Linked DNA regions of Homo sapiens. The protein of the gene in region 1 interacts with the protein of each later gene in a pairwise test. Each region holds a gene or a part of one and is shown in the gene's direction. Other genes may lie near its edges.

Evidence for each region. Proteins that work in one complex are often made in the same cells at the same time.
Region 2: the proteins of NBL1 (region 1) and CAMK2A interact in binary tests that used the Homo sapiens proteins (3 or more experiments, as listed by UniProt).
Region 3: the proteins of NBL1 (region 1) and CHAT interact in binary tests that used the Homo sapiens proteins (3 or more experiments, as listed by UniProt).
Region 4: the proteins of NBL1 (region 1) and NCS1 interact in binary tests that used the Homo sapiens proteins (3 or more experiments, as listed by UniProt).

What each region holds. Positions count from the first base shown.
Region 1 is NC_000001.11:19,656,632-19,658,952, forward strand, and holds the end of NBL1 (neuroblastoma suppressor of tumorigenicity 1 isoform 2 precursor), read left to right. Parts: intron 1-234; coding exon 235-498; 3' UTR 499-1,821; downstream 1,822-2,321. Other genes in the region: MICOS10-NBL1 (neuroblastoma suppressor of tumorigenicity 1 isoform a precursor), read left to right, coding at 235-498. UniProt on the Homo sapiens protein: Possible candidate as a tumor suppressor gene of neuroblastoma. May play an important role in preventing cells from entering the final stage (G1/S) of the transformation process.
Region 2 is NC_000005.10:150,286,974-150,291,147, reverse strand, and holds the start of CAMK2A (calcium/calmodulin-dependent protein kinase type II subunit alpha), read left to right. Parts: upstream 1-1,374; 5' UTR 1,375-1,522; coding exon 1,523-1,584; intron 1,585-4,174. UniProt on the Homo sapiens protein: Calcium/calmodulin-dependent protein kinase that functions autonomously after Ca(2+)/calmodulin-binding and autophosphorylation, and is involved in various processes, such as synaptic plasticity, neurotransmitter release and long-term potentiation.
Region 3 is NC_000010.11:49,645,037-49,648,536, forward strand, and holds part of CHAT (choline O-acetyltransferase), read left to right. Parts: intron 1-1,468; coding exon 1,469-1,638; intron 1,639-3,470; coding exon 3,471-3,500. UniProt on the Homo sapiens protein: Catalyzes the reversible synthesis of acetylcholine (ACh) from acetyl CoA and choline at cholinergic synapses.
Region 4 is NC_000009.12:130,220,904-130,224,403, forward strand, and holds part of NCS1 (neuronal calcium sensor 1), read left to right. Parts: intron 1-1,746; coding exon 1,747-1,835; intron 1,836-2,178; coding exon 2,179-2,256; intron 2,257-3,500. UniProt on the Homo sapiens protein: Neuronal calcium sensor, regulator of G protein-coupled receptor phosphorylation in a calcium dependent manner. Directly regulates GRK1 (RHOK), but not GRK2 to GRK5. Can substitute for calmodulin. Stimulates PI4KB kinase activity.

The sequences.
Region 1 (2,321 bases):
GGTGGCTGCTGGTGGGGAATGGGTGGGAAGGTGGCAGGACTGGATGTGAGGAGACAGCTCTGGTGGCTTGTGCAGGGGTTCAATTTCCCCCTCCCCATGGGACCCCAGAGCTAACTGGGCATCACAGGTGGGCTCTGGGATTCTTGATCCCATGAGGAAGTATTACCCTAGGGGCTGCCTTGCCTGCCCCAGACCTTTGGGAACATGCCTCTGCTTCTCTCTTGCCCTCTGCAGGTGACGCTGGAGTGCCCGGGCCACGAGGAGGTGCCCAGGGTGGACAAGCTGGTGGAGAAGATCCTGCACTGTAGCTGCCAGGCCTGCGGCAAGGAGCCTAGTCACGAGGGGCTGAGCGTCTATGTGCAGGGCGAGGACGGGCCGGGATCCCAGCCCGGCACCCACCCTCACCCCCATCCCCACCCCCATCCTGGCGGGCAGACCCCTGAGCCCGAGGACCCCCCTGGGGCCCCCCACACAGAGGAAGAGGGGGCTGAGGACTGAGGCCCCCCCAACTCTTCCTCCCCTCTCATCCCCCTGTGGAATGTTGGGTCTCACTCTCTGGGGAAGTCAGGGGAGAAGCTGAAGCCCCCCTTTGGCACTGGATGGACTTGGCTTCAGACTCGGACTTGAATGCTGCCCGGTTGCCATGGAGATCTGAAGGGGCGGGGTTAGAGCCAAGCTGCACAATTTAATATATTCAAGAGTGGGGGGAGGAAGCAGAGGTCTTCAGGGCTCTTTTTTTGGGGGGGGTGGTCTCTTCCTGTCTGGCTTCTAGAGATGTGCCTGTGGGAGGGGGAGGAAGTTGGCTGAGCCATTGAGTGCTGGGGGAGGCCATCCAAGATGGCATGAATCGGGCTAAGGTCCCTGGGGGTGCAGATGGTACTGCTGAGGTCCCGGGCTTAGTGTGAGCATCTTGCCAGCCTCAGGCTTGAGGGAGGGCTGGGCTAGAAAGACCACTGGCAGAAACAGGAGGCTCCGGCCCACAGGTTTCCCCAAGGCCTCTCACCCCACTTCCCATCTCCAGGGAAGCGTCGCCCCAGTGGCACTGAAGTGGCCCTCCCTCAGCGGAGGGGTTTGGGAGTCAGGCCTGGGCAGGACCCTGCTGACTCGTGGCGCGGGAGCTGGGAGCCAGGCTCTCCGGGCCTTTCTCTGGCTTCCTTGGCTTGCCTGGTGGGGGAAGGGGAGGAGGGGAAGAAGGAAAGGGAAGAGTCTTCCAAGGCCAGAAGGAGGGGGACAACCCCCCAAGACCATCCCTGAAGACGAGCATCCCCCTCCTCTCCCTGTTAGAAATGTTAGTGCCCCGCACTGTGCCCCAAGTTCTAGGCCCCCCAGAAAGCTGCCAGAGCCGGCCGCCTTCTCCCCTCTCCCAGGGATGCTCTTTGTAAATATCGGATGGGTGTGGGAGTGAGGGGTTACCTCCCTCGCCCCAAGGTTCCAGAGGCCCTAGGCGGGATGGGCTCGCTGAACCTCGAGGAACTCCAGGACGAGGAGGACATGGGACTTGCGTGGACAGTCAGGGTTCACTTGGGCTCTCTCTAGCTCCCCAATTCTGCCTGCCTCCTCCCTCCCAGCTGCACTTTAACCCTAGAAGGTGGGGACCTGGGGGGAGGGACAGGGCAGGCGGGCCCATGAAGAAAGCCCCTCGTTGCCCAGCACTGTCTGCGTCTGCTCTTCTGTGCCCAGGGTGGCTGCCAGCCCACTGCCTCCTGCCTGGGGTGGCCTGGCCCTCCTGGCTGTTGCGACGCGGGCTTCTGGAGCTTGTCACCATTGGACAGTCTCCCTGATGGACCCTCAGTCTTCTCATGAATAAATTCCTTCAACGCCTGTGTTCTCCTCCTCACTGACTGGCTCTGCCGACCCAGGTTCTCCAGAAGTGCCGGCAGCGAGGCCCAGAGGCAGCAGGGCCTGGGCTCGGGCAGTGGGGTGCTGAGCAGGCCTGCCTGGCCCCCACGCGGCACCACTGTCTCTGCATCCTTGTGGCCCTCTCCCTGTCTTGCCCTGTGCACCCCTGGCTCCTGATCCTCTGTCTCCCCAGCTTTCATGTCTTTCCTTGGGTGCCAGTTTCTGGCCTCGCATACACCTTGGGTGGGCCTCCAGAACTGGGCTTCATGGATTTTGGCCCCTGGTCTTGTGGGCTTGCCTCATGCCATCTCTTCACCCACACAATGGCCCAGGATCAGCCCTTGCCTGGGCCTGGCCTGCCTGGCCCCCTGGGAGAAGGGGAAACAGACAAAAGTATTGGTTACAGATTAATATATAAGGCTGGGCCCTGTGCAGGGTCCTCGCCCAGTCCGCACCACCTCCCAGTGATGCGGATATTGTCC
Region 2 (4,174 bases), on another chromosome or scaffold:
TAAAACACAAAAAATTAGCCAGACGTGGTGGTGTGCGCCTGTAGTCCCAGCTACTTGGGAGGCTGAGGCAGGAGAATCACTTGAACCCAGGAGACGGAGGCTTCAGTGAGCCGAGCTTGCACCACTGTACTCCAGCCTGGGTGACAGAGTAAGACTCTGTCTCCAAAATAAATAAATAAATAAATAAATAATATAAATAATAAATGTCCAGGAATCAGAGCTCAAACTCAGATCCTTAGTCTTAAACTCCAGTCCCTTTTCTTCCTAACTCCAAGACCTTGGAGTAAGATCTTGTGGCTGTAGGTATGGCTGATGCCCTGAAGAGTTGAAGTTGGCAGGGAAGGTGCCCAGAAAATTTTGGATTGAAGATTTCATGGCAAGTCTCTGGCCAGTGGCCTAGCCCGGGTAAGCCATGCTATGCTCACCTCCCCACAGCCCCCTCTCGCCTTTTTTTTTTTTTTTTTTTTTACCTTGACTGGAAGCACAAGCAGAAACTGGGACATGAGCACCAGGAGACCAGATTTCCATGGTCCCGTTGGGGGCATGGGGTTGGGGAGAGGTTGCAGAGGAGGGCTCTGGAGGGGAGCAACTGTCACAGCTGTGAGAGGTGGGGGTGAGCAGGCAGTCAGGGCTGTTCCCTCCAGAATCCTGGGGTGTCCTCTGCACTTCTGCGCCAAGCTGGAGTGCTAGTGTGATGGACAAGGTGGTAAGAGAGCTGAAAGAGCACGAGCATAACAAGAAAGACAGAGGCAGAAGCAAAAAAAAAAAAAAAAAAAAAACAGAGGGCAACAGAGAGACAGTTACAGAGACTACAGTGATCCACAGAGGGAGAGCCATCCCTGTGAATTAGCCATCATTTCCCTGTAAACCTTAGAACCCAGCTGTTGCCAGGGCAACGGGGCAATACCTGTCTCTCTAGAGATGAAGTTGCCAGGGTAACTGCATCCTGTCATTCGTTCCTGGGGACCATCCGGAATGCGGCACCCACTGGCTGTTACCATGGCAACTGCCTTTTTGCCCCACTTAATCCCATCCCGTCTGCTACAAGGGCCCCACAGTTGGAGGTGGGGGAGGTGGGAAGAGAAAAGATCACTTGTGGACAAAGTTTGCTCTATTCCACCTCCTCCAGGCCCTCCTTGGGTCCATCACCCCAGGGGTGCTGGGTCCATCCCACCCCCAGGCCCACACAGGCTTGCAGTATTGTGTGCGGTATGGTCAGGGCGTCCGAGAGCAGGTTTCGCAGTGGAAGGCAGGCAGGTGTTGGGGAGGCAGTTACCGGGGCAACGGGAACAGGGCGTTTTGGAGGTGGTTGCCATGGGGACCTGGATGCTGACGAAGGCTCGCGAGGCTGTGAGCAGCCACAGTGCCCTGCTCAGAAGCCCCGGGCTCGTCAGTCAAACCGGTTCTCTGTTTGCACTCGGCAGCACGGGCAGGCAAGTGGTCCCTAGGTTCGGGAGCAGAGCAGCAGCGCCTCAGTCCTGGTCCCCCAGTCCCAAGCCTCACCTGCCTGCCCAGCGCCAGGATGGCCACCATCACCTGCACCCGCTTCACGGAAGAGTACCAGCTCTTCGAGGAATTGGGCAAGTGAGTTGTGCCTCAGGAAGTCCTGGAAGGCATGGGGGGCGGGGAGGTCAGGGTCTCTAGTGGGGTGTGTGTGCCTGCAGTGCTTGGGGAGCATTCCTTGTACACAGATGAAGGCAGGCTGCATGGGTTTGGGGGCACCTGCCTGTGTACAGAGTGTCCAGAGTCGGGCGTGGGTATGTTTGTGGGTGCACAGATGTGCCAAGCTAGCCAGGCCAGTGTGTATGTAGGGATGAAGGGTTGACAGTGTATGCCAGTGCACACACATACACACAAAATGCACACAAGTACACACAACCTGGATACACACAGATTCTTAGAGACTTAGGGTTAAAAAGGGATTTTCCTAGTCAGCTGGGTCCAAAGCTGGAATTCCTTCTCTAGTTTTGCTTGAGGTGGCCATCCGCCCTCCACTTAGATACCTCCAGTGACAGAGAATTCACCAGCTCCCGGTAGTTCTTCCTGACTTTAGACACCCACAGTGACTGTACAGAGTGGCCAACTTCTCCCTCCCTACCTCCCCTTTCTCAGCTCCTGCCAGGAGTGAGGGCGTCAGTACAGTAGGGGTTAATATCTGAGCATGACAGGCTTCCCGGGTGTTGGGAGGTGGGGAGAGGAAATCAGGAAAGCTGTAGCGGGGAGCACCGCTGTTTCAGGGGCTAGGGTATGAAGGGTGCAGTGGCTCTGGACAAGCAAAGTTGCCCAGCCCAGAGCTCATTTTCTGCCCTGATGACTGCTGTGTAGAGAAGGATGGGAGGATGAGGAAAGAGGGGAGGCCCTTGTGGGTGGCCCAGTAGGGTGTGGAGTGTCAGGGAGGGATTCCTGGATGTCCCCAGCTGGGTTTCTGGAGGATCCTGGGATGGGTCAAGGGTTGGGTGCATTTTGGAGGCAGAGTTTGCCTTGTGGGCAAAGGAGCACCGATGCCCTGGTTGGTTTCTGCTGAGGCAGCAGGAGCACGGGGGGAGGGGCCCTGGAGGCAGGTGTGTATTGGTGTGAGTTCTGAATGTGTGTGTACTAGTGTGCATTTTGAGGAGTGATGTGTGTGGCTGTAGAAGGGCTTTTGAGGGAAATTGCTTGTGACACTGGGGTACGCTGGTGTGCCCTGCCAGGGTGTGCAAGCATTCATGCATGTGCACCAGGAAGAGGTGCTTCGTGTGTAAGGCCTGAAAATGCAAGTGTGCCTTGCAAGGGTGCATGTGTGTGAGTATTACAAGAGTGCTGTTGGCTGGGTTGAATGAGAACAAGGGTGTAAACATGACTCATTAAATGTGCACATGTATGGCAGGTTAGAGCTGTGTGCACATAGGAAGGCACATGTGTGTGAGGTCTAGGGGTGTGTGAGGATGCTCATATGAGATGCGGACACAATGGTGTTCCTGTGAGGTCTTGATATGCACATCTACGTGAAGACTGGGGTCATGCACACAGGATGATGTACGTGTGTGTGCACACGCATGTGTGTGCATGTGTGAGGCCTGGGCTCACAGGGTTATGTGGGAGTATGGGTGTTATAGGCATGTGTGAGCTCATGCTGGTGTCTGCATATGTGTGGGAGGTGGCCCTGTGACTGTATACAGGAAGGCTGCTTGCACACACACACACACACACACACACACACACACACACACAGAGGCTATCCTACAGGCATGCACCACCTCCCTTGAGCACATATACCCCCATGTGTACGTGTGTTCACTCTTATCTGCAGACTTTCAGCTTTTCTGAATGTGCTTTTTTTGCGGGTAGGGGCAGGAACAAAATGTTTGGGGCTGCTCTGGAGGACTGAGGCTGTCTACAAACTTGTGCAGGGACCCCTCTCCAGGTGTTTTCCAGTGCTCGCCTAGAACCCAAGAATTCCCTGATTAGCCATGAAGCTGCCTTTCAGGGAGTGACCAAGACTGGGTCCTGGCAGGACTGCGTCATGAGTACAGTGAGATGGAGTTGAGATGTGACTCAAGTGCTCAAAGTGAAAATAAAAGTGATGTTTTGCCCCAAGAGGAGATGGATATCATTAAGACTGGGTTTTGTGGGGGCAACTTGGTAGAGAGACCCTTCGTGAGCCTTCACAGAGAATTTCAGGGGCAAGGGAGCCCTGGTGTGGCCATGGCAGGAAAACCGAGGGTAGCAGGCATAGCTAGGCCTTGTTTAATCAATTTCAGACTTCTTCCTTCCAGAACCATCAGACTGCTCTTAACCTTTTTTAGGTCACATATTCCTTCAGGAATCTGATGAAAGTCTAAATCTACGTTCCCCAGAAAAACGCACAAACCTACGAAATGTTGCATGCAATGTCAGGAGCTTGCAGGGACATCGGGAAGACTGTGTATGAGCCTAAGTTTGCAGAAGCTTGTGTTAGAGACAAGGGGATAAAGTGGACTGATTCCGCACCCCTGATGTCTGTGTTAAAAAGTCCAGACCACATCATTGAGGAGCCTGGGGCTCCTGCTCTCCACAGCAGCTTCAGTCTGAGCATCCAGTGGTGCAGGGAGGGGCAGTGCCCTGCGTAGCCACTAGGGACACAGGCGCTGTCCCTCATCACCCATAGCTCTGTGACACCAGGCAGGCTATGCTACCTCTTTACCCCCACCTGTAG
Region 3 (3,500 bases), on another chromosome or scaffold:
CCGGAAGCTGTGGTGTAGTTTTTTGAGATCTTGCTCATAGAATTTAGACACCTGGTTACCCCTAGCTGTAAGGGAGGCTGGGAAGTATAGCTCTAGTTTGTTATCCATGTACCAAGCTAAAAACCAGGGGTTCTACAAGCAAGGAAAGAAAGGACATGTGGTGTGCAACTAGGAGTCTCTACCATGTAATGAACCTTTCCCTGCAAATGCCATGCACCCATCTTCCCACACACAGAGCACTCTCACCCCTGCCCTGGGTGCCTCATCCTGTCCCAGCATCCAGCCCCCAAGGTCAGGCTCTCCTGGTGATACGCAGCCCTCACCATTGGGTCTTGAAGTGACTCCTTGGAATTTTAAACCAAAATGTTAAACTTTGGGTGGACTTTTTAACTTTTGGTGAACTTTAAACCAAGAGGCAGGCTGTGTACCCCCACACCCAGTACTGAGCAGTGGAGAGAACATCGTCAGCACAATAGACTCCTGTTTGGAAGAAATGGGAACACGCAGCGGGAGCAGGCCTGGCCCCCAACAGGTCCTGCCGGGTGGGCTTGGTGAACCTCCCTGTGCCCTGTGGAGGAAGCTGCCAGGGAGGGCAGCTTCTGGTGCTCTCTGGGAGGAACGCATGTGTCCTTGGTGAAATCACGTGCTCTGTGCCTGACTCCCGCTCCTGAAGAGCCGTCCTTGTCTGTACTCTTCCAGTGCCACCAGGGAGGGGGATTCCCTTTTGAGACCTGCTTACTCTAGAAGAATGTCTAGAGGAGCCTGGGAATTGGTAGAGGCTAACACAAAAGCCAGCTGTGGGCCAGGCTTGGAGCTCCTTTGGATCCATGAGTCCAAAACTGCCCCTACAAGCTCATCCAGATGTGGGTTCAAGGCAGCCTGGCCCTTCTGCCTGCAGCTCTGCCTCTGAACCAACAGCTTGGGGGCAGGGAGGTGACCAATACACTTCCTTCAGGTTTTAATGTGAAATTGCCTAATTTTGAAATTGCAACAACAATTTTGAAATTGCAGTTTAGATGTCTGAAAGTCATAGTTCAGCACAAACAAGCATGCCTACACACAGATGTGGCTCACAGGAGCCCCAGTGGAGGGTGCTGTTGGGTGGGGGATTAAGGGCCCTTCCACTGATGTGGGCTGACATGAGGGTCTAAGCATCCCGCTTCATCTTGGCATGCATGACCAATAGCCCACACATCTGGAGGAGAGCTGGTCACAGCTGGAGAGCAGGGCTCCTGCAGGGACCGTGCGAATGAGCTGGGATCCTGGGGTAGGACAGAGGCTCAGGACACTCTGGCTGACTTCACTGCCCACCCACAGTGGGGCAAGGTGGGGGGTCAGGGCTGGCTCAAGACCTGGGTCTTGTTGTGATCCCAGAAGACAGGGCTGCCCTGCCCTGTGTGGGGCTCTGAGGAGGGAAGACTGGCCTGGAGCGGGACAGGTGCTAGGGCTGTGCCTGCCTCCCCTGCAGACTCCACCAACCGGGACTCGCTGGACATGATTGAGCGCTGCATCTGCCTTGTATGCCTGGACGCGCCAGGAGGCGTGGAGCTCAGCGACACCCACAGGGCACTCCAGCTCCTTCACGGCGGAGGCTACAGCAAGAACGGGGCCAATCGCTGGTACGACAAGTCCCTGCAGGTAAGCCGTCCAGGTGGCCCTGCAAGAGCACAGCCATGCCCCCAGCGAGAGAGTGAGTAGGCAAGCGGGCACAGCCTGGTGCCCAGGCCCGCACGTGCTTGTGTCTGGCAGGCGCACTCACTGGTTTCTGCTGCCTAAGAGGCTGGGTCTGAGGGGTCAGGAGAGCTGGAGGGGTCTGAGATGTGCTGTTGATGTCAATCTCTGGACCAGCCAGAACTCTTCTCAGGAGCCAGTGGCCGAACCCAACTCAAACTCCCTAACCTTCCTGCAGCCTGTGCCAGGAAGGTCTGGGCCAGACCTGGGGCCCATTTCCCATCACCCATCACACCTGTGAGGTGGGGGTGTGCCAGGAGTAGGAGAGTATAACAGCCCCACTGAACAAATCCTTAATGCATGCTGAAATAATAATTTCTGATGCCCAGAGCTGTCAGCTTTTTGGATGTCCACCCCCGTGGCCTGGCGATTTCAACATACCTCCCTCAATCCCTGAGAAGTAGAACAGCCCAGCATCTCCATGGAAGAAAGACTGTAAGATGAGATAAAATAATTCATATATGTTCATTTACATGACATCAGCCTAGAAGCAAGAAATTTACTTTGACCTAGAGAAAAATACCCATGCAGACGGGATGAAGTCAAGGTCAAACCATTCATTCCCATTCTGCCATCCTCCTTTTATTCCCCCAACATGCCAATCCTGAACCTAGTCTTGTTTATTTTAAAGTCACTACACTTTTATATGATATGCCATGTAGTATAAAACAGCAGGCAAAAACAAAACATCTCTCTACTTTGGGTTAGCAAAGCTCACATTGATAAGCATATCTAGACAACACCTCGTTTTCCTTTCTCTCTGTCCCTACATTCTGCAGGTTTTCCTTTTTATTGGTTTGCATATTGATTCTGTTATTTCTGATGCGCTCTCCAGCTGCTGGGCCAGCTGTTTTAGCCTCTACAGTGGTGCTAATGGCTTATCATCTTTCATGGAGCTGTGGGGGTGAACCGATATAATACATGCACAGAATCTGGAACTCAGCCTTGGTAGCAGTTTTCAAAAGACACCGCTTTCCTTCCTTCCTTCCTTCCTTCCTTCCTTCCTTCCTTCCTTCCTTCCTTCCTTCCTTCCTTCCTTCCTTTTAGTGACAGGCACAGATAAGTACTAATGTGGGGGGTGGGTGCAGCCCTCTCCACCACCTCTCATGGGTTAGTCTATGCTGACCTCCAGGTTCTTTTCATCAGCAGGGCAGATTATCAGGCGAACCAGAGAAGCCAGCAGGGCTTCATGGACCTGAATTCAAGATGATGGAGAACTGGTCTCAGGATAGCAAGGCAGGGGACACTGGGGGCGGGAGGGGAGGGCCTGCAAAGGGTGAGTTTGGGGAGAAGCTCTGTGGGAAGTGAGTTTCTTTGTAGAATGGGAGTAAAGATCCAGCCTCTGGCACACAAGGCAAGAGATTGGGAGGAGACCCCGATGTGAGCTATGACAGGAAACAGGGCTGAAGGGCCTCACCCAGGCCCCAAGGGCAGCTGGGCAGACTCGTCCTGAGGATGAACTCCTCAGAAATCCCTGGACTGCTCAGTCCGGGAACTTGGGGCTCCACCTTCACTGCCCACAGCTTTTACGGGAAAGAGGTCGTGAGTGCAGAGTAGTCTTGGATTCTCATATTCTCAGGCCACTGCAATCACATGCAGTGTTCTCTTCAGGAAATAATGTGCTCTGGTGTCCCTGGAGAAGAGGTGCCCTGAGAAGCCAGGGGCCTAACCTGGGGCCAAGGGGCTGCCTTGCAATGCTGACTCTCCCATGATCGCCCACTCCCTCTTTCCTGTTGCAGTTTGTGGTGGGCCGAGACGGCACCTGCGGT
Region 4 (3,500 bases), on another chromosome or scaffold:
GTTGGGGGAAGGAGAGGGGTGCTCCTCTGGGTAACATCCCAGGCCCCGGGCTCTCCCACGCACTCAGCTCCAGCCACTGATACCTCGGCCCTGGCAGCCCAATGCCCCATCCCTTTATTTTATTTGTTTATTTATTTATAGACAGAGTCTCGCTCTGTTGCTCAGGCTGGAGTGCAGTGGCACAATCTCGGCCCACTACAATCTCTGCCTCCTGGGTTCAAGCAATTCTCCTGCTTCAGCCTCCCAAGTAGCTGGGATTACAGGCATGTGCCACCACACCTGGCTAATTTTTGTGTTTTTAGTAGAAATGGGGTTTCGCCATGTTGGCCAGGCTGGTCTCGAACTCCTGACCTCAGATGATCCACCCACCTTGGCCTTCCAAAGTGCTGGAATTACAGGTGTGAGCCACCGTGCCTGGCCCTGTTATTTTTAATATATATATATATAAAATATTTAATATATATATAAAATATCATATATATATATATATATATATATATATATATATATAGAGAGAGAGAGAGAGAGAGAGAGAGAGAGAGAGAGAGAAAGAGAGAGTCTTGCTCTGTCACCCAGGCTAGAGTGCAGTAGTTCGATCTCGGCTTATTGCAACCTTCGCCTCCTGGGCTCAAGCCATCCTCTCACCTCCTCCCAAGTAGCTGGAACTACAGGCGCCCGCCACCACACCTGGCTAATTTTTGTATTTTTAGTAGAGAAGGGGTTTCATCCTGTTGGCCAGGCTGTTCTCCAACTCCTGACCTCAGGTGATCTGCCCGCCTCGGCCTCCCAAAGTGCTGGGATTATAGGGGTGAGTCACTGTGCCTGGCCCTGTTATTTTTAATTTATAAATAAATAAATATATATATACACATAAATATAAATTATGTATATATAAATATATATACATAAATATAAATTATGTATATATAAATATATATACATAAATATAAATTATGTATATATAAATATATATACATAATACATAAATATAAATTATGTATATATAAATATATATACATAAATATAAATTATGTATATATAAATATATATACATAAATATAAATTATGTATATAAATATATATACATAAATATAAATTATGTATATAAATATATATACATAAATATAAATTATGTATCTATAAATATATATACATAAATATAAATTATGTATCTATAAATATATATATGTGTGTGTGTATATATATATACGTATATATATATGTGTATATATATATACGTATATATATATGTATATACAGAGAGAGAGAGGGAGAGAGACTTGCTCTGTCACCCAGGCTGGAGTGCAGTGGCTTGATCTCGGCTTATTGCAAACTTCGCCTCCTGGGCTCAAGCCATCCTCCCACCTCAACCTCCCAAGTAGCTGGAACTACAGGCACCGCCACCAGGCCTGGCTAATTTTTGTATTTTTGTAGAGACGGGGTTTTGCCATGTTGTCCAGGCTGGTCTCGAACTCCTGGGCTCAAGCAGTCTGCTCACCTCAGCCTCCCAAAGTCCTGGGATTACAGGTGTGAGCCACCATGCCCAGCCTTATTTTTTTTAACCCTAGTTGCAATGGTGTGTGTGTGTCTGTCCCTGTCTATCCTGATGTAAATATTAGTTGACCTGATGAGGAATGGGCCATCCGGTCGCTGACTTCATGTTGGGGTACAGAGAGGAGGGGCGAGTTGAAGACCCCTCCCCACTGCCCCAGCCCAGGATCACTCAGCAGTGCTGCTTGCTTACAGGGGCCTTCAAGCTCTACGACTTGGACAATGATGGCTACATCACCAGGAATGAGATGCTGGACATTGTGGATGCCATTTACCAGATGGTGGTGAGAAGCCGGGTCTCGTGTGGTTAGGGGTGGCAGGAGGGGCAAAGCCAGTGACTGAGAGACAGAGAGAGAGCACTTGTGCAGCCATGCTCCTGCCCAGGGTGGAAGCAGGGGTCACTGGCTGAGCCGTTCTGTACATCTCTGCCTGGGCAGGCAGGCACAAGCTGGTAGATAGTGGGGCTGGGGTGTGGGATGTTCCAGGGCACAATGGCAGGGATGGGGAGGGGAAAGAAGAGGGGGGCGGCCCTCATCTGGAAACTGCCAGGTCTGGGGGGCAAATGCGTGGCCAAGAGCCCAAAGCCCAGAGTGCCAGGGCCCACCCCCGCCTTGTCCGTCCCTGCAGGGGAATACCGTGGAGCTCCCAGAGGAGGAGAACACTCCTGAGAAGAGGGTGGACCGGATCTTTGCCATGATGGATAAGGTGAGGTGGGGGGGCGGGGCTGGTCCTGGACCAGGGAGGCAAGGTGTCGGGGGCAGGAATTGGAGTCCCTGGATCCTGGGCCTGGCTTTGCTGCCAACCTCCTCCATGGCTCACGGCAGGCGGCACGGTGTCCTATCCCTGCTCAGCAGCTAGCCCCATCCAGTGTCCAGAGTCTTAAGTCAGTTTGCTCAGCATGTTTTCTTTAATCAACCAGAGTCCTTAGCCTTTTTTTTTTGTTTGCCATGGACCCCTTTGGCATTCTGGAGAAGCCTACAGACTTCTCAGCATAATGGCTTTAAGCGCATAAAATAAAATCCATAAGATCAAAAAGGAAGCTGATTATTTTAGAAAACAGCTGTCAGAGTATTTTAAAAAAAGAATCTGTGATGTAGCGTTCTGTGAGCTGCTTTCTTAACGCATTCACTAAGATGTAGTGGTGGGTCCAGCAACCCCCGAAATTGCGAGCTGTAATATCTGCAGCAACTAGGGTGTGTTATGAAAATACCTGTGATCCCTACTGTCGACAGATCACAGGTACTGCAGGTCCTGTTGGGGACCGTCGCCTAGGTTTCCATCAAAGGAAAAGCTACATTTCAGTTAGAGGTTAGTAAAAAAAGGCTGATTTTTTTTCCCCCAAGTTCATAGACCTGCTGACTTCTATCCACAGGCCCAAGGTTAAGAAACCCTTCTCTTTTTTTTTGAGACAGAATCTTCGCCCTGTCACCCAGGCTGGAGTGCAGTGGCGGGCGCGATCTCGGCTCACTGCAAGCTCTGCCGCCTGGGTTCACGCAACTCTCCTGCCTCAGCCTCCCGAGTAGCTGGGACTACAGGCGCATGCCACCATACCTGGCTAATTTTTTGTATTTTTAGTAGAGACGGGATTTCACCGTGTTAGCCAGGATGGTCTCGATCTCCTGACTTCGTGATCCACCAGCCTCGGCCTCCCAAAGTGCTGGGATTATAGGCGTGAGCCACCGTGCCTGGCCAAGAAACCCTTCTTTAAAGGGAACCAAAGCCAGGTGTGGTGGCTCACACCTGTAATCCCAGCATTTTGGGAGGCCGAGGCGGGTGAATCACCTGAGGTCAGGAGTTCGAGACCAGCCTGGCCAACATGGTGAATCCCTTTCTCTACTAAAAAAAAAAAAAAAAAAAAATCCGGGAGGCAGCAGTTGCAGTGAGTGGAGATCGCGCCATTGCACTCCAGCCTGGGCAACAGAGTGAGACGCAGTCTCAAAAAAAAAAAA